Linked DNA regions of Homo sapiens. The protein of the gene in region 1 purifies or fractionates together with the protein of each later gene. This does not show direct contact. Each region holds a gene or a part of one and is shown on either strand. Other genes may lie near its edges.

The links.
Region 2: the proteins of MYO19 (region 1) and MYL12B purify together in Homo sapiens (co-immunoprecipitation; 2 studies listed by BioGRID and IntAct, with this or other methods). This does not show direct contact.

What each region holds. Positions count from the first base shown.
Region 1 is NC_000017.11:36,510,658-36,517,925, forward strand, and holds part of MYO19 (unconventional myosin-XIX), read right to left. Parts: intron 5,334-7,268; coding exon 5,201-5,333; intron 4,526-5,200; coding exon 4,456-4,525; intron 3,892-4,455; coding exon 3,789-3,891; intron 3,069-3,788; coding exon 2,972-3,068; intron 2,849-2,971; coding exon 2,772-2,848; coding exon of another isoform or gene 2,712-2,771; exon of another isoform or gene 2,429-2,711; intron 2,227-2,428; coding exon of another isoform or gene 2,217-2,226; intron 2,123-2,216; coding exon of another isoform or gene 2,001-2,122; intron 799-2,000; coding exon 708-798; coding exon of another isoform or gene 702-707; intron 261-701; coding exon 89-260; intron 1-88. UniProt on the Homo sapiens protein: Actin-based motor molecule with ATPase activity that localizes to the mitochondrion outer membrane. Motor protein that moves towards the plus-end of actin filaments. Required for mitochondrial inheritance during mitosis.
Region 2 is NC_000018.10:3,257,037-3,265,144, reverse strand, and holds the start of MYL12B (myosin regulatory light chain 12B), read right to left. Parts: upstream 3,013-8,108; 5' UTR 2,908-3,012; exon of another isoform or gene 2,786-2,907; intron 2,533-2,785; exon of another isoform or gene 2,361-2,532; intron 1-2,360. UniProt on the Homo sapiens protein: Myosin regulatory subunit that plays an important role in regulation of both smooth muscle and nonmuscle cell contractile activity via its phosphorylation. Phosphorylation triggers actin polymerization in vascular smooth muscle.

The DNA.
Region 1 (7,268 bases):
CTATTGCCTGATGTTGTCTGGCCCAACCCCGGACAGGAAGAGCACTTGTCGGGGTCCTCCCCAACAAGGGGCCAGAGTAACTGCTCACCGCGCATAGATCAGTTTGGCCAGGCAGTCTCTACGGGTGTCACACTCGGCTCGGGCGCAGGGCTTCCGGAACACCTGCTGCTGTCTGCCTGCCCTGATGGTTCTAATCTGCACCATCTCCAGCAGCACGTCCTCTGGGAGCCCCAGCAGCGAGGCTGCCGTCCTGACAGAGTCTGGGAGGGGCAAATCCTCTTTAGGCAAATCACTCTCCATCCAGTCCTCTTCACGAGGCACTGTGAAGTCATCACAGCGGGACCATGACTTGCCCAACTGGACAGAAGAAACCTAAGTTCTGATCAGTGAAGTGACTCACCCAAAGGACTCCATAAACAGCAGTCAGAACTCAAACCCAGCACTTTCATGTACCAGTCCATGCTGCCATGTATGGGACAAATCACTTTACAAACCTCTGACTCATTTTCTCATCTTTAAGATGGGGACGATACTGTCTGCCTCACCAGACAGGGTGAGGAGTAAATGATCCAGGGCCAGGCCCTATGGTGGGTGGCATAAGCAAGGGCATCAGATTCCAATTTTCACCATCCAGCCTTCCACCCAACCCCAGCAATGCTGGCTACCTTCCTGACAGGGCCTGCCCCATCCTACACCCTGACCCTCACACTTGGCATCATCCATCGGCTGGCAGGGCTGGGCTTCATCCTCGGAGGCAGCAAACTGGATATTGCCAAGGTGCAGCAGTCCAGCTAGGACCTGGGGGAAAGAAAAGGATGGGTGGGAGTAGGAGAGGGCGTGACGTGGGCCTACTCTGGGAAGGGCCGTTCTGCTGAGTACAATCACGACAGCAGAAGGGCAGCTCCCAATCATGGCCCAAGTGCCCATCTCTGCCAGACACAATTCTATACAAGTTACATGCATCGCCTCATTGCAACTTTTCAACAACCTGTAAGGTATGTGCTACGCCACTGCCTATGATAGAGATGAGACTGAGGACACGTGCTTCCTGAGGGGAAAGGTGGGATGAGAACCCAGGCTGACTTCAGATGTCTCCTGGGGCAGCCTGTGGGCCTCCATGCCCACCCATCCTCTACATTTCTGCCCCCTGCTCTCTAGGAATAGACTGGTGACTGGGGGCAGGGCTGCTTCTGTGTGCCTGCTGGAGGCTTGTCTCTGCTTCCTTGAGCCCTTTCCCACTGTCAGGCTTCTGAGAGCCCAGCCTGCTGGAGGCACTGTGACCTTGGTCTGTGTCCGATGGGTGCCCCTTTGCCTTTGTACTCAATGTTCCACACCGACAAGCCCCCTGGGGCTATAGACAGAAGCTCCCCTCACCCCACCAAGGCCCAGCAACTTCAAAACCCTCAGACCCAGCTAGGCATGGTGGCACACGCTTGTAATTCCAGCACTCTGGGAGGCTGAGGCAGGTGGATCACTTGAAGTCAGAAGTTTAAGACCAGCCTGACCAATATGGTGAACCTCCATCTCTACTAAAAATAAACACACACACACACACACACACACACACACACACACACACAAAATTAGCTGGGTGTGGTGGCACATGCCTGTAATCCCAGCTACTCGGAGGCTGAGGTAGGAGAATCACTTGAACCCGGGAAGAGGAGGTTGCAGTGAGCTGAGATTGTGCCACTGCACTCTAGACTGGGCAACTAGAGTAAAACTCCATCTCAAAAAAAAAAAAAAAAAAGAAAAAACCACCACCCTCAGACCTGACACAGGGACCCCACCCACCATTCCTATATGGTCCCAGGCAGGGTGCCTCCATGTGCTACTGGTCTTCCGGCCACAACTTGCTCCAGAAGACTGCCATGCCCACCAGGCAGAAGGGCTGTGGCAGAGGGTCATGCCCACCCCCAAAGCACTCCTGCCCCGACTCCCAGTGTTGTCCACTTATCCTGGGCTTGTCCCCAGGTACTGTCCTTCTGTCAAGTTCTTACCTGGCAGTGTCTGAGCAGCCCCCATCTGGAGGTGAGGGTCACTTTCCACTGCATTGCTACCTCCCTGAAGTGGCCTCCCTTTCTCGACTGCCAGGCCATCCTATCTATCCCCTCCTGCTGCTCTAGAGGGTGAGGAAGATGAGAGGAGGTAGTCAGCTCTGTCAGCAAAGACAGAAGGGAGGCCCCCCTAGTGTGACTGAGAGGAGCCCAGCTCACCTGGGGCAGTCTCATGTTCCAGAGGACGACGGGGCACGGGTTGGGGGAAGACAGAGAGGGTAGGAACTTGGAATTACTATGTCTGGTACTCTGTATCACCACTTAGTGGTATCTGACCTTGGGCACGTCACTTTACCTCTCTGGTTTTCTCAGGCATAAAGGGAAATAAACACACACAGAGGACTGTTTAAAAAACTAAGTGAGCAGAGAAGTGTGAACATGACTTGTAAGTTTTAATGTACTAGACAAGCAAGGCGGTAGCACTAGTTCTCTCTTCTGATCATGCGGTACCTTGCTCTCTGCCCCCATGGATCACTTACTGCATTCTGTACTCTAGCACTGTGTATGCATCACTCTTCCTTATGCCCCGTCCACCCCACCACCTGGTCTCCAGACTCAGCAGAACAGAGGTGACTGATTCCTTGGAGGTAGCACAGAAGGGCCCAAAGTCCTAGATCCTCAGGGAAAGACCAACTCCAAGTCCAGGGAAAAGCTCTATGCAAAGGGCTGCCCGTCATCTCTGCCAAACTTAAGTGGCGTGGCTTTTCTTCTGACCTTAAAGATGTTGTTCTGGGTAGGGGTGTCAATGCCCAAATGGAGCATGGCCTCTCTGGTCACCTCAAAACAATCCTCTGAAAAAGAATCCAAGTTCGGGGCAGAGGTCAGCAGCAGCAAGATGCGAGGGAGGCAGGCTCTGTACAGAGTGGGTGGGTGATGCTGGGTCAGCGCAAGGTGCTGGATGGGGCTCCCCTTACCTTCTAAGCTCCTCTCTGGGTTGGGCAGCCAGGAGAAGGCAGCTCCCTCAGGAAGGTGCCACTGGAGCCTCTCGTCCTCACTGGCTCCTTTGCAAATCTGTGGAGAAGGGTAGGTGGGAGGCTGGGTAGGGGGTCTGAGAAAAGCCCAGGCCTGCATAGGCAGGCATGGGGTTGGGATAAGAGGAGAGTTGGTAGCAACATCACAAGGCTCAGAGGTCCCTTCCGAGAGCCCACGGCAGGTATGGGGGCAAAAGATGCCGTAAACATAGCCCTGGATGTCTCCAACCTGATGCAAAAGAACCTTGCTCTAGGGAAACCTGCAGTCTGGTGAAAAAAGGACAACTCCTGCCCAGGGAGTCCGTCGTCTTGACGTGGGAGGCATACCCATCACCTAAGGATGCTCCGATTTTGAGAGAAAGGGAGATATCCTATCCATGCCTTGGGGGACTCCCAGTCCGATGGAAAAGGCACAACTCTAGGGAAGCCCTTGTTCTGTTAGCGACAGATGCCATTCTAGGAGAGCCCTTAAAATGATAAGAGTGACACGGCTTCCACCCTAGAGATACAGTCCCAGCCTCAAGGACCTTCTGGTCTGATGGAGGAGGTAAAACATACTCCCAGGCCACAACTGTGCTGGGAGCCAAGGCGCAGTGTGAGGCAGAAGTGCTGCATGTAAAGTCTGCAGGATAAAGTGGTGGCTCCATCAAAAGCTAGGTGAAGGAACCAGGTATGGAGCATTCTGGGGAGTGGGGGGTTGAAAAACACGGACCCATCCCTGTCTCGCATCTGGGGGGCTGTGGCCCCATTTGGCACAAACCTGATAGAAGATGTGGAAGTTCCTCTCACTGGAAGCCTGGCAGGCCACTCGAGTTTTCTCTAGGAGGTAGGTCTGGACTGCGGCTCCAGTCATTTGCTGAGCCCTGGGACACACACAGGCCAGAGCCCGTTAGTTGCCCATTCATTCCATAGCCATGTCTGGCAATCTGGGTGTGCCAGATTGCCTGCTACCTGGCAACTCCCCGCCAAGCTCTTCCACTTAGCCAATGGGCACTGAGGGGTGGGGACCACTCAGAATGTCCTTGGGTGTCCTGGAATATTCCCCTGCATCTAGCTCAGGTGGGCAGGGCCAAGGCCTCTGCACATCACTTTGCTCTACCCCAAGACAGGAGTCGAAGTCTCAGCCTCAAGCTCAGGGATATGGTCCAAAGAGGTGGCAATTTAGCTTGAAGTCCCTGAGCAAGAGTAAAAGCCAGGAGGAACCCAGGCCTGAATAAGCGCACTGCCCCAGGGTTCCCCAAGGGGAGAGGAGCTATAGTTCTCCAGGTGCAAAGATCACCCTCAGAGCTCACACCTGAGGTAAAGGGCATGCACCAGGAGGAGCAGGGTTTTTGCCCATAGGGGTGGCCCAGGCCAGATACTGCCCCAGCCACTTTCAACCTCCCCAGTCCCATCCTCCCACTAGCCAGGGCAACAGCAGCTATTACCTGTTCAGCTGGAGCTGGATGAACTTCCCAAAGCGACTGCTGTTGTTATTCCTCAGTGTACACGCATTCCCTACAGATCACACCTATGTTTATTTCACTCCCCTGGGTTTGCAGAGTCCTCATAAGCCAAGGTGGCTGCAGGTCTCTGGAGGTCATGTTCCCGTGCTCAAGTCACCTAAAGGCCCCTTTGTTGGTTTTCATGTCATAGGGGACAGGACTAGAAAATGGGCCCTCATGCTTTAGCAAGTGGGATTCAGGGGAGTTAGAAGAAATTCCTGGCAAGAAATTGGAATGAGCAAGCCTAGGCAGTCAGGGACCTTTCTTTGAAGGGAAAGGTCAAAAACAATCAGCTGTCACTACTGACTTTAGACAGGAAGGCACATCTGGGTTCCAGTGCCAACACAAACACTAATCACCTTGTATCCCTTAACAAGTACCCTTCATTGAACCATCAGGAAACTGGATAGAAAGACAGAATTTGGACGAGCTAAGCCACCAGGTCTTCTCCAGCACGACTGTTATGTGTGCCTAGGCTGGAGCGAGGAAGAGGACTGAATGACATGACCTCTGTTAGAATGATGCTAAGGAGTACCAGGGAGAGGTTGGGGATCTGAGGCAGTGAAGGATACACTCATCCTCCACCCCCACCCAAGAGAGGGTCTCAAAGCACTGTCCCTCTCCCTGGAAGGTGGAAAATCCCAGAGGAAATGGGACTGAGATACTGTGCAAAGGAGCCCAAGCTCACCAAAAGCTTCCATGACAGGGTTGGAGTTCAGGATCCTCTGTTCTATCCTCTCTGCAATCTTGTGGCTCTCCCAAGATGCAGGTGAGGTGGCCACCACAGCATAGAACTTCATTAGGCAGCGAGACGTCCATGTCTGTGGCAGAAACAGCCCTGTGGGAGCTGTATCTATGCTCCCGCCCACTTCTGAGCCTGCCTGAGAGAACAGTGCCCACCAGAGCTCTCTTCTCCACCAGTGTGTTGCTGACAAAATGGGTGAAGGCAGAATTCAACCCTGGCCTCAGGCAAGGCACTTCCTCTACCTCTGTTTGTAAAATGGGAGTAGACATCTGTTTCTCTCAGCTCTGTGGCAGACACTGAGCTATCGAGGCTTTCTGTGTATGTTTTTTTTGCAAACTCTGCAAAGGTGTGATTATACAATTGTTTATAAACAATAAAACCAAAGCATAGAAATTTAAAAATTTATTAAAAATCATGCATCTACTCAATGACAGGGCTCCCATTTATACCCAAGCAGTCTAACTTTTTTTTTCCGAGACGGAGTCTCATCTTGCCTCCCAGGCTGGAGTGCAATGGCACAATCTCAACTCTCTGCAACCTCTGCCTCCTGAGTTCAAGCGATTCTCCTGCCTCAGCCTCCCAAGTAGCTAGGATTACAGGCGCACGCCACCACGCCTGGCTAATTTTTTACATCTTTAGTAAAGACGGGGTTTCACCATGTTGGTGAGTCTGGTCTTGAGCTCCTGACCTCGTAATCTGCCCACCTTGGCCTCCCAAAGTGGGATTACAGGTGTGAGCCACCGCACCTGGCCCCAAGCAGTCTAATTTTAATTCATACTCTTGTTCTTAATCAGCTGAAGTGAGGTATACTTTCATTTTAACTTCTAATTGTTTGTGGCTAGGACATAGAAATACACTGTCTTTACATATTGACCTTGTATCCTATCACCTCACTAAACGCTCTACAACTTTTTAGTTGCAGTAAGGTGGCAACTTACTTTGTAGATTCTTTAGATTTTTCTTTGGGATCAGAGATATTTCTATCTTCTGAAAGACTTTATGTAGAACTGGTAACATTTCTTCCTTAAATGTTTGGTAGAATTCACAAGTGAAGCCACCAGGGCCTACAGCTTTCTCTGTGGGAGGGCTTTTAACTATGACTTCAATTTCTTTCAGAAATAGGGGCTATTCAGGTTCTTTTTCTTCTTGTGTGATCTTCAGCAGTTTGCGTTTCTCAAAATATTTCTCCATTTCATCTAAATTGTATAATTTCTTGGCATAAAGTTATTCAAAATATTATCTTAATCTGTAAGATCTATATTGATGTCTACTCCTTCATTCCTGATACTGGTGATTTACATCTTTTTTCTCTTTTTATAAGTCTGACTGGAGAGTTATCATTTTTTTGTTTGTTTGTCTTCTTTAGAGGCAAAGTCTTGCTGTCACCCAGGATGGAGTGCAGTGGCACGATCTCGGCTCACTGCAACCTCTGCCTCCGGGGTTCAAGTGATTCTCCTGCCTCAGCCTCCTGAGGAGCTGGGACTACAGGCGCTCGCCACCATGCCCAGCTAATTTTTGTATTTTTAGTAGAGACGGGCTTTCACCATGTTGGTCAGGCTGGTCTCTAACTTCTGACCTCAGGTGATCCACCCACCTTGGCCTCCCAAAGTGCTGGATTACAGGCGTGAGCCACTGCACCCAGTGAGTTATCATTTTATTCATCTTTTCAGAGAAAAGTCTTTTATTTCATTAATTTTTCTATTTTATTCATCTTTACTTTTTCCCTTCTTCTGCATACTTTGGGTTTATTCTGTTCCCCTCTAGCTTCTTAAGGTATGCCACAGACTGAATTGTGTTCCCCTCAAATTCATATTTTGAAGCCCTCACTCCCAATGTGACTGCATTTGGAGAAGGGATCTTCGGGAGGTAATTAAGATTAAATAAGGTAATGACGCCAGGTGCGGTGGCTCACGCCTGTAATCCCAGCACTTTGGGAGGCTGAGGTGGGTGGATTGCCTGAGTTCAGCAGTTCAAAACCAGCCTTGACCAACATGGTGAAACCCTGTCTCTA
Region 2 (8,108 bases), on another chromosome or scaffold:
CTCAATTTTTTCAACTTTTTTTAACACCAGGGAAGCATTTCCCCTAGTACTCTATATGTATTTTAACACTTACCACATACACATTATAACAATGACATTTCTTTCTCTATTATAGGTTTTATGATCATTACAGTTGGCTGCAAACTTTCTATTCTCTGAGCTCCTATATCATTTTGTTTTACTGCAGTGAAATTTATATAGTCAAATGTACAAACCTTAATAAGTTTTTATAATGTGTATACCCATGTAACCATCACCCCCATTAAGTTACAAATGTTAACACTGTTCCAGAAAATTCTCTCCAAGTTAATCACCATCTCCCATAGGCAACCACTGTTCAGATTTCTATCACCATAGATTAGTTTTGTTTTTGAACTTCTTATAAATGGAATTGTACAGTATATATTCATATATATGCCTGTCTTCTTTCATTCAATACAATGTTTTTGAAATTCACCTCTCTTATTGGGTTTATGGCACAATCATAGTTCACTGTAGCCTTGAACTCCTGGACTCAAGTGATCCTCCTGACTCAGCCTCGAGCAGCTGGGACTACAGGCATGAGTCACCATACACAGCTACTTTGCAAGGAGTGGGTGGCAGGGTAGAGACAGGGTCTCGCTATGTTGCCCAGGTTGGTCTTGAACCCCTGGCTTCAAATGATCCCCCCACATTGGCTTCTCAAAGCATTAGGATTACAGGTATGAGCCACCATGCCTGGCCATATTCATTCTTTTTATTGCCTTTTGCCTTTCCACCTTGGACTGCAGAACTTAGCAGTGTGCCTTGCACATGGCAGGTGCTCAAATAATCCTAGTTAAGCAAATACATATATATATGTATAAATATATGTATAGTATACACAGTTGTATATAGTGTATATACATATATAGTTCTTTCCTGTCACAAACAGAATTACACATATATGTTCATTACAAGGTAGGTCCCGGATCTGAATTCCAACATGAGGCTTTTCTCTACGGTCTACCTATGGTTCCAGTCTCTTCCCCAAGAGATCCCTAAGGAAACTTAGTAGCTACCCACTGCTCCATACCTGGAAGAAGCAGTAGCAACCAGGGACAACTGGGTGCTAAAGATGTGCCAGGCACTGATTTAAGCATTTTGTATGTGTTAACACATTTAATCCTCACGACAACTCATCATATAGGTATTGTTATCATCCTCTTCTCTCAGATACGAAAATCAGGGTAAAGAGAATAAACAACTTGCCACACAGCTAGAAAATGGCAGAGCTCAGTCAGGATCTGTACTCAGGAAATCTAGCTCCAGAGCTTGAACCACTAGCCAGTAACATCCTGCATACAGGCAGCTGAAATTCTCTACCATGAAAATGTGGATACCTGGGCATAACAAGCAATGACACCCCAAAGCTAATGTGTAGAATGAGGAAGGAAGATCACAAAGATGCTGGCAAAAAGGGTATGATAAACTCATCCCCAGATATACCTGGAGCCTTTGAATCTTGGGAGAAAGGGAAAACTAGCCCCATGTCGGGGCTCTAAATCCTGTTCTTTCCTAACCCTAGCAACTCTTGTCTGGACATCTGTCCTTCAGAAATTGCAGTTCATCTTGTTCAAGCTTAGTTTCATCAAAGCATAAACGAACATCGAGTCAGCCATCATAAAAGCTGTTTCACTCAAAAGAGCCTAAAGCACTCAAAAGTGCTCTTAGTTATAAAGTCCAGGAGGGTCCACCACCTTCGACAAATTACCTCACCTCTCTGGGTTTCACTTTCCTCAGTTATAAAACGCAAAGCCTTCACAAGGTAATCTATCAGGTCCTACTGAATTCTAAATGCTTTGATTCTTCTCTTACCAAAAGACCATTCCAAATCTACCTTAAACTAAAGCGGCCAAACGAATCCTCTAAACATCCCTTTCTTATTACTCCGTTAGTGAAGACTCCAAAATTACTCTCTATGGCTTCTTAGATAATCTTTTCTTTCTCCTAAGTTTTCAAGACATCCATAAGAAGGTCCTACTTACCTATCTACCCTTATTTCCGACTATTAGTCATTACAGTTCTGTTCCATACCCGCCGGTGTCCCCACGGCCTGCTTTTCACAGGACACAATTCCCAGCTTTTGAGTTTTGCTCGTTACCACCTCCCACACATCTAGCCGGAAACGCTAAGTTCTCCCTCTTAAGGTTGAATCCAAGGCCTTCAGTGAGGTCACGACTCTTTTCCAAGTAACCTTTCCCTATTTCTGTTAATGGTCCTTTCTTCAATCAACACGAATAAACTAAACCTTTACAAGATGCAAGACACACTGAGCGAATTACAACTCTATGTAAATCATCACATTTGAGCCCGTATCAACCACACACTCGGTTACCGGCATGCTAATGGCTTCCTTGGAGGCTTCACCTTAGGCAAGACCGTGCAACAGGAGGCTCCTCCACCCTCCAAAGCATCTAGGATAGTGTTGGGCACAGGGCAGGTGCTCCACACGAACACGCCCGGGTCGGCCCCAATCCACCGCCAGGACCCGCCGCGGCGCCGGGAGGGCAGGCGTTGGCCGCCGGGCAGCCGGGCCGTCCAAGGCCCAGGTGTCTGAGGTCACCCAGGTGGCGCAGGGCCGGCCCACGCACGGCCGGGACCCGGCCACTTCTCCAGCAGGGCGTCTCCCCATACCGGCTCCATCGCCTGCAGCCTCCCGGCCCCTGGACGTCCGGGCCAGGGCCTCGCCACCAACCCTCCTCCCGCCGCCAACCCTCCTCCCTCCACCTCCGGCCCCGCGCCCCCTTCTCAGCCAGTCTGACAGGTCCTGCCGCCGCCTGGCCGCCCTGGGGCGGGGTCCGGCCGCAGGCGCGCGACGGGAGGGGGCGCGGGGGTACGGAGACGGCGGCCCGAGGGGTCTCGCGAGCAGAGTCGAGCGCGACTCACCCGACGCCAAACACCAGAACCGGGGCCGCCCTGCGCGAGACCACAAACGACAGCGAAGAGCGTTAGGCTGTGGCCGGACAGTGGCGGCGCCGACACTTCCTGCCTGAAGGGGCGGAGCGGAAGGCGCACCGGAAGGCGCACCGGAAGGCGCACCGGAAGGCGCGGCGGGACCAAGTGGAACGGGGGTGCGCTGAGTGTTCGCGCCCGGGCCGGCGGGGTCTGCGTGTCCGCCGAGCGGCGGGGCTGCTGAGGCCGGACGCACACGGCCGGGGTCTTAATTGCCCCTCCGGCCTGCTCCGATCCGCTGCGATATCGCGGCCTGCGCTGCGGCGGTCGTCCGCAGCCCGGCCCTCGTCCCCCGCTCCTTTGGTAGCTCCGCCACCCTTCCGCATTCCTGGGCCCGCTGGGCGCGGCTGGGCAGGCCGCTGGAATTTGACCCGAGTGGGCCGCGATCGGCCGAGGATTTGGGGTCCCCTTTGACCCAGGCGGGGCGCGATCCGCCTAGGATTTGGGGTCCCCTGGCGCCGAACCCTGAGTTGCCAGATGTAGCAAGTAAAAGTACAGTTCTTCTAAATTTGAATTTCAGACAAGACAGGTTTTAGGGTTCGTCTCATGTAATGTTGAGAAGGTGAGGGCGGCGCCTGGGCGGATTCTTCTCCGTTCCAGAATCCCTTTCTCTTTTCAAACCGCATTACAGCCCGAGTTAAATTCTTTAACCTACTCCTCTCTGCTTACCCTCATAAGGTTTACGGCCGTATCAGGCTACGGCCGCAGCCTACGGCTGTTTGATTCCCCTTTTGGCCACAAGAAAGTTTTATTCGAACTACTTGCTTTCCTTTATCAAGAAAATGGCAACGCACACACATACATGCACACACAAATAAAAACACAAAGCTACGTTTTTCAGGTTTTGTTCTAGATCGTGTTTGTGGCTGTGTTCTTCAGGATATTTTCCCTCACCTTGAGGTAATCTAGCATTACTTCATCTAGCATTACTAAAATAGCATTACTTCAGGATGGTGGAGGATCGGCAATCTAATAGCAAATCTTTATTGAACTCTTCTTACTGCCTTAACATGTGCCGGATGCTGAGAGATGAATTCAAAGCCTCTTAGGGAGTTTATATTCTAGAAATCTTTGATCAGAAATTCCTAGAAGAGAGGGACCTTGTGTTCAGCACTCTGTAGCAGTTCTTAAACAGTAGCACGCATAATAACAGGGCTTTTAAAAACATTTTTGAGCCTCAAAACCGGGTATCAGGATTCAGTGAGTAAGGGGTGGAGGATAATTCGAATTTCTGGTAAGCACACATGATGCTGATGGGGTGGTCGCCATCCCAGCAGCACAGCTCTAAACGCGGTTCATAACTGTGTGTATTTTCTCAATAGTGTTAGAAAAGCAATTGCTGAAAAGTCACACCTGGTTCTACAATATTTACTCTTAGGTTTTGGTTCGATAGTCTAAATTAAAAAAAAAAAAGTTTCTAGAATTGTGCTGTCCAATACAATCGTCACTAACCACATGCAGCTAAACTTAAATTTAGTTCCTCAGTTGTATTTGATACGTTTTATTTTTAGAGATGGGGTCACCCTATGTTGCCTAACCTGGAATGCACTGGCTATTCACAGGCGTGATCATAATGCACTACAACCTGGAACTCCTGGCCTCAAGCGATCCTCTCACTTGAGCCTCCCAAGTAGTTGGGACTACAGGTGAGAGACACCGCACCAGTGCGTCTGGCAGTATTAGACACTTTTTTTTTTCTTGAGACGGAGTCTTGCTCCGTCGCCCAGGCTGGAGTGCAGTGGTTTGATCTCGGCTCACTGCAACCTCTGCCTCCCGGGTTCATGTGATTCTTCTGCCTTAGCCTCCCGAGTAGCAGGGACTACAGGCCTGTGCCACGACGCCCAGCTAATTTTTGTATTTTTAGTAGAGACGGGGTTTCACCATGTTGGCCAGGATGGTCTCAATCTCTTGTCCTCATGATCCGCCCACCTGGGCCTCCAAAAGTGCTGGGATTACAGGCGTGAGCCACCGCGCCTGGCTAGTATTAGACACATTTTAAGTGCTCAATAGCCACATGTGGTTAGTGTCCTTATTGTATGGCACAGAGAGCATTTCCTTAATTACAGAAGCTTCTATTTGACAGCACTATTCTGAAGAAATAATTCTAAGGTATATTGTTCTCTCTAGATGCAAAAGAAAAGCCTATAATAGGCTTTGTTTAATCATGAATAAAAATTTATTCACTAATAAAAATAGCTGGATAGCTAAATATCTATCATTGGGAAATTGTTAATTATAGCATGCCCACATCAAAGATAACTGAAGTTAAGAATGGTTGAAAAAGAAATATACTCAAAACAATGGTGGCTATGCCAAAACATGAGATATAATTTAAGTAGTAAACGAAAAAACAAGTTGTAAACTCATTACAACTCTAAAATGTGTGTGGATAAATACTGGAGAAAAGTCACATTTCCTGCTATTTGAGCAGACACAGAGAAATCTAGACTAAAAAGATATAGGGACTTGGAAGATGGAAGAGCAAGTGGAAATGACTCGAATAAGCAGCAATGGGAAAACTGGGCATTTCTTCAATGTGGGATTAGCTACTACAATCCCTTTATGGACAGAAAAAATAAACTGTACCCGTGAAGAGGACCTAATTCGACACACACAAGTCTGGCATATTGGACCTGCTCAGGAAATCGAAAGTGAACTATTTCAGAATCCACTAGTACCAAACTGACAGGCATTTGTATGCATAGTCTTATAAAATCTTCCTAACAACCTGTTAATGAAATTCTACCTTGAAATCCATCCACTTTTCTAAGGGCAATCCTACGTGGTCTAGGTTCTGTCACATCCTAGCTCTTAGACATGATCCATTTTGTTTCACTAATTGTTCCCCCCTAGTTTGTTGTCTTCTACTCTGCCTATAAACAGGCTTGAATTTGAAGATATGCCCTTTGCCCCTTCTCACTGGCCCACTCGTAAACAAAATAACTACTATTTGGAGACCTAATGTGTCCCAGACCATTTGTCTTTCATGCTTCTAATTTTCAGAAGAAACTTGGATGGTATTGGCCATTTTACAGATGAGGAAACTGGCAATTAAGAACACAAAGTCAAATAGGCAGGTGCAATTCACTTAAGTATGGCTCCAAATCCGTGCTGCTCTTAATCACACAAATGCTGCTTTATATATTATGTTCCTAATATGAACCAACAGTATTATTTCCGTTTTATAAATGAATAAATAGGCCAAGGAAGTTTAAATAACTGACTTAAGGTTATAGAGCCATGACGTAGCAACAAACGGGAATTAAGTGTAGGTCTGCCTGACCCCACACCTAGGCATTATTCACTATCCTGTGCTGCATTATGGATTCTGCACTCAGAACTCTAATAACTCTAGCAAACATGACTAACGACTTGTCACATCTGGGAGGGTCTCATTTAAACCTTCCCATACTCCACTTTTCTGTGTTGGACACTGCCAACCTCCTTACTCTTGAAATTAACTAGGTTTCCGTAAGACTGTTTTTGTGGCTCTATTTACCTCTCCAAACTCTGATCATTTTTTATCTGATCCTCAAGTCTAGGTGTTAAGCCTCTTGCTGTCCTTCCTCTTTTCACTTTGTAGCAAATGGTTTCCTTTCCTTCTCAATTTGCTGTTACTTGTCTCTTATGCTCAGGCCTTCCTCCTTTCTTTCCCAGGAGCATTCAATTCCTGCTCTCATCAAGTTATAGATTCTTTCATCAAGTAAAATTTGGGGCCTGGAATCAAAATGACCATATCATCATATGCAGGTGGATAAGGATGCCACCCCCATTAGGCTGGTTTTGTCCGATTTTTGTTTTCTTTTTCAAGACAGGGTCTCGCTGTCACCCCAGGCTGGAGTACAGTGGCACAGTCAGCTCACTCCAGCCTCAAACTCCTGGGCTCAAGCAATCCTTCCACCTTAGCTTCCAGAGTAGCTGGGACTATAGGCACCCACCACCATGTCCGGCTAATTTTTAATTTTTATGTAGAGATGGGGTTTTGCTTTGTTGCCCAGGCTGATGTCAATCTTCTGGCTTCAAGCAGTCTTCCTACTTCGACCTTCCAAAGTGCTGGGATTACAGATGTGCGCCAACGTGCCTAGCCAGATCTTTTGAAATGGTTTAAGTATGACTTTCATCATGGAAACTTTTGAGACTGATTTTTCAGTCAAACACACCATTGAAATGGATGCTTTTACCTTTCTGTTGGCAATCACTCTTGTTTAAGCAAAGAATGCTATTACTAAATTAGGAGAATTATTTCATTCAGGGTACATCATTGTTCTTAATGCAAGTTGGTTCATTAAGCACTTATCTGAAAGGGAAACAGGGGCCCTGCAAGAGATCCTTTTAGTAGTACCTTGTTTTTCATATAGTGCAAACAATGCTATCTGTTCTTCACTAGAGATGTAACAAAGCATATGATAATTTTTTCTCTTGACATGGAAATTCAATTCAAAAAACAAGATTTTAGCACCATGGCCATAGCCTGGAAAAAGTATTTTGGCTTAACCAGTGAATAAAATTCAGAAACAAAAGACAAAGAATGAAGGCAGGTTCTAAGATTCTAATGCTGAAGAGGTCAAGGACTAGCTTTGACTAGTCCTTCTATTCCTATAGCACTGGCCTTCCCACGTTACAGGATCTAGCTGATCTATCTTATTGGCTGCAAAGGCCTGCTGCCCAGAAGGCTTTTAGTAATTGTTTACTGAATGAGGTAATGGTTTTGTCCAAGGAGAGTCATGTTAATCGTAGCATAAAACTTAAAGTTATTATAGTAATTGTCAATTACTCATCTTCATAGGCTAATTGTCAAATCTTTTCAACCAAATTTTTCTCCATTTCAAATCTTTTAAAACTCATGCTCTTTGAGAGTCAGAGTTTTGGGCTGGGCATGGTTGCTCACACCTGTAATCCCAGCACTTTAGGAGGCAGAGGTGGGAAGATCACTTGAGTACAGGAGTTTTAGACCAGCCTAGGCAACATAATGAGACCTTGTCTCTACAACAAATTAAGAAATTAGCCAGGCATGGTGGTGCCTGCCTGTAGTCCCAACTACTCAGGTGGCTGTGGATCACTTGAGCCCAGGAGGTCAAGGCTGCAGTGAGCTGTGATCGTGCCATTGCACTCCAGCCTGGGTGATAGAGCGAGAG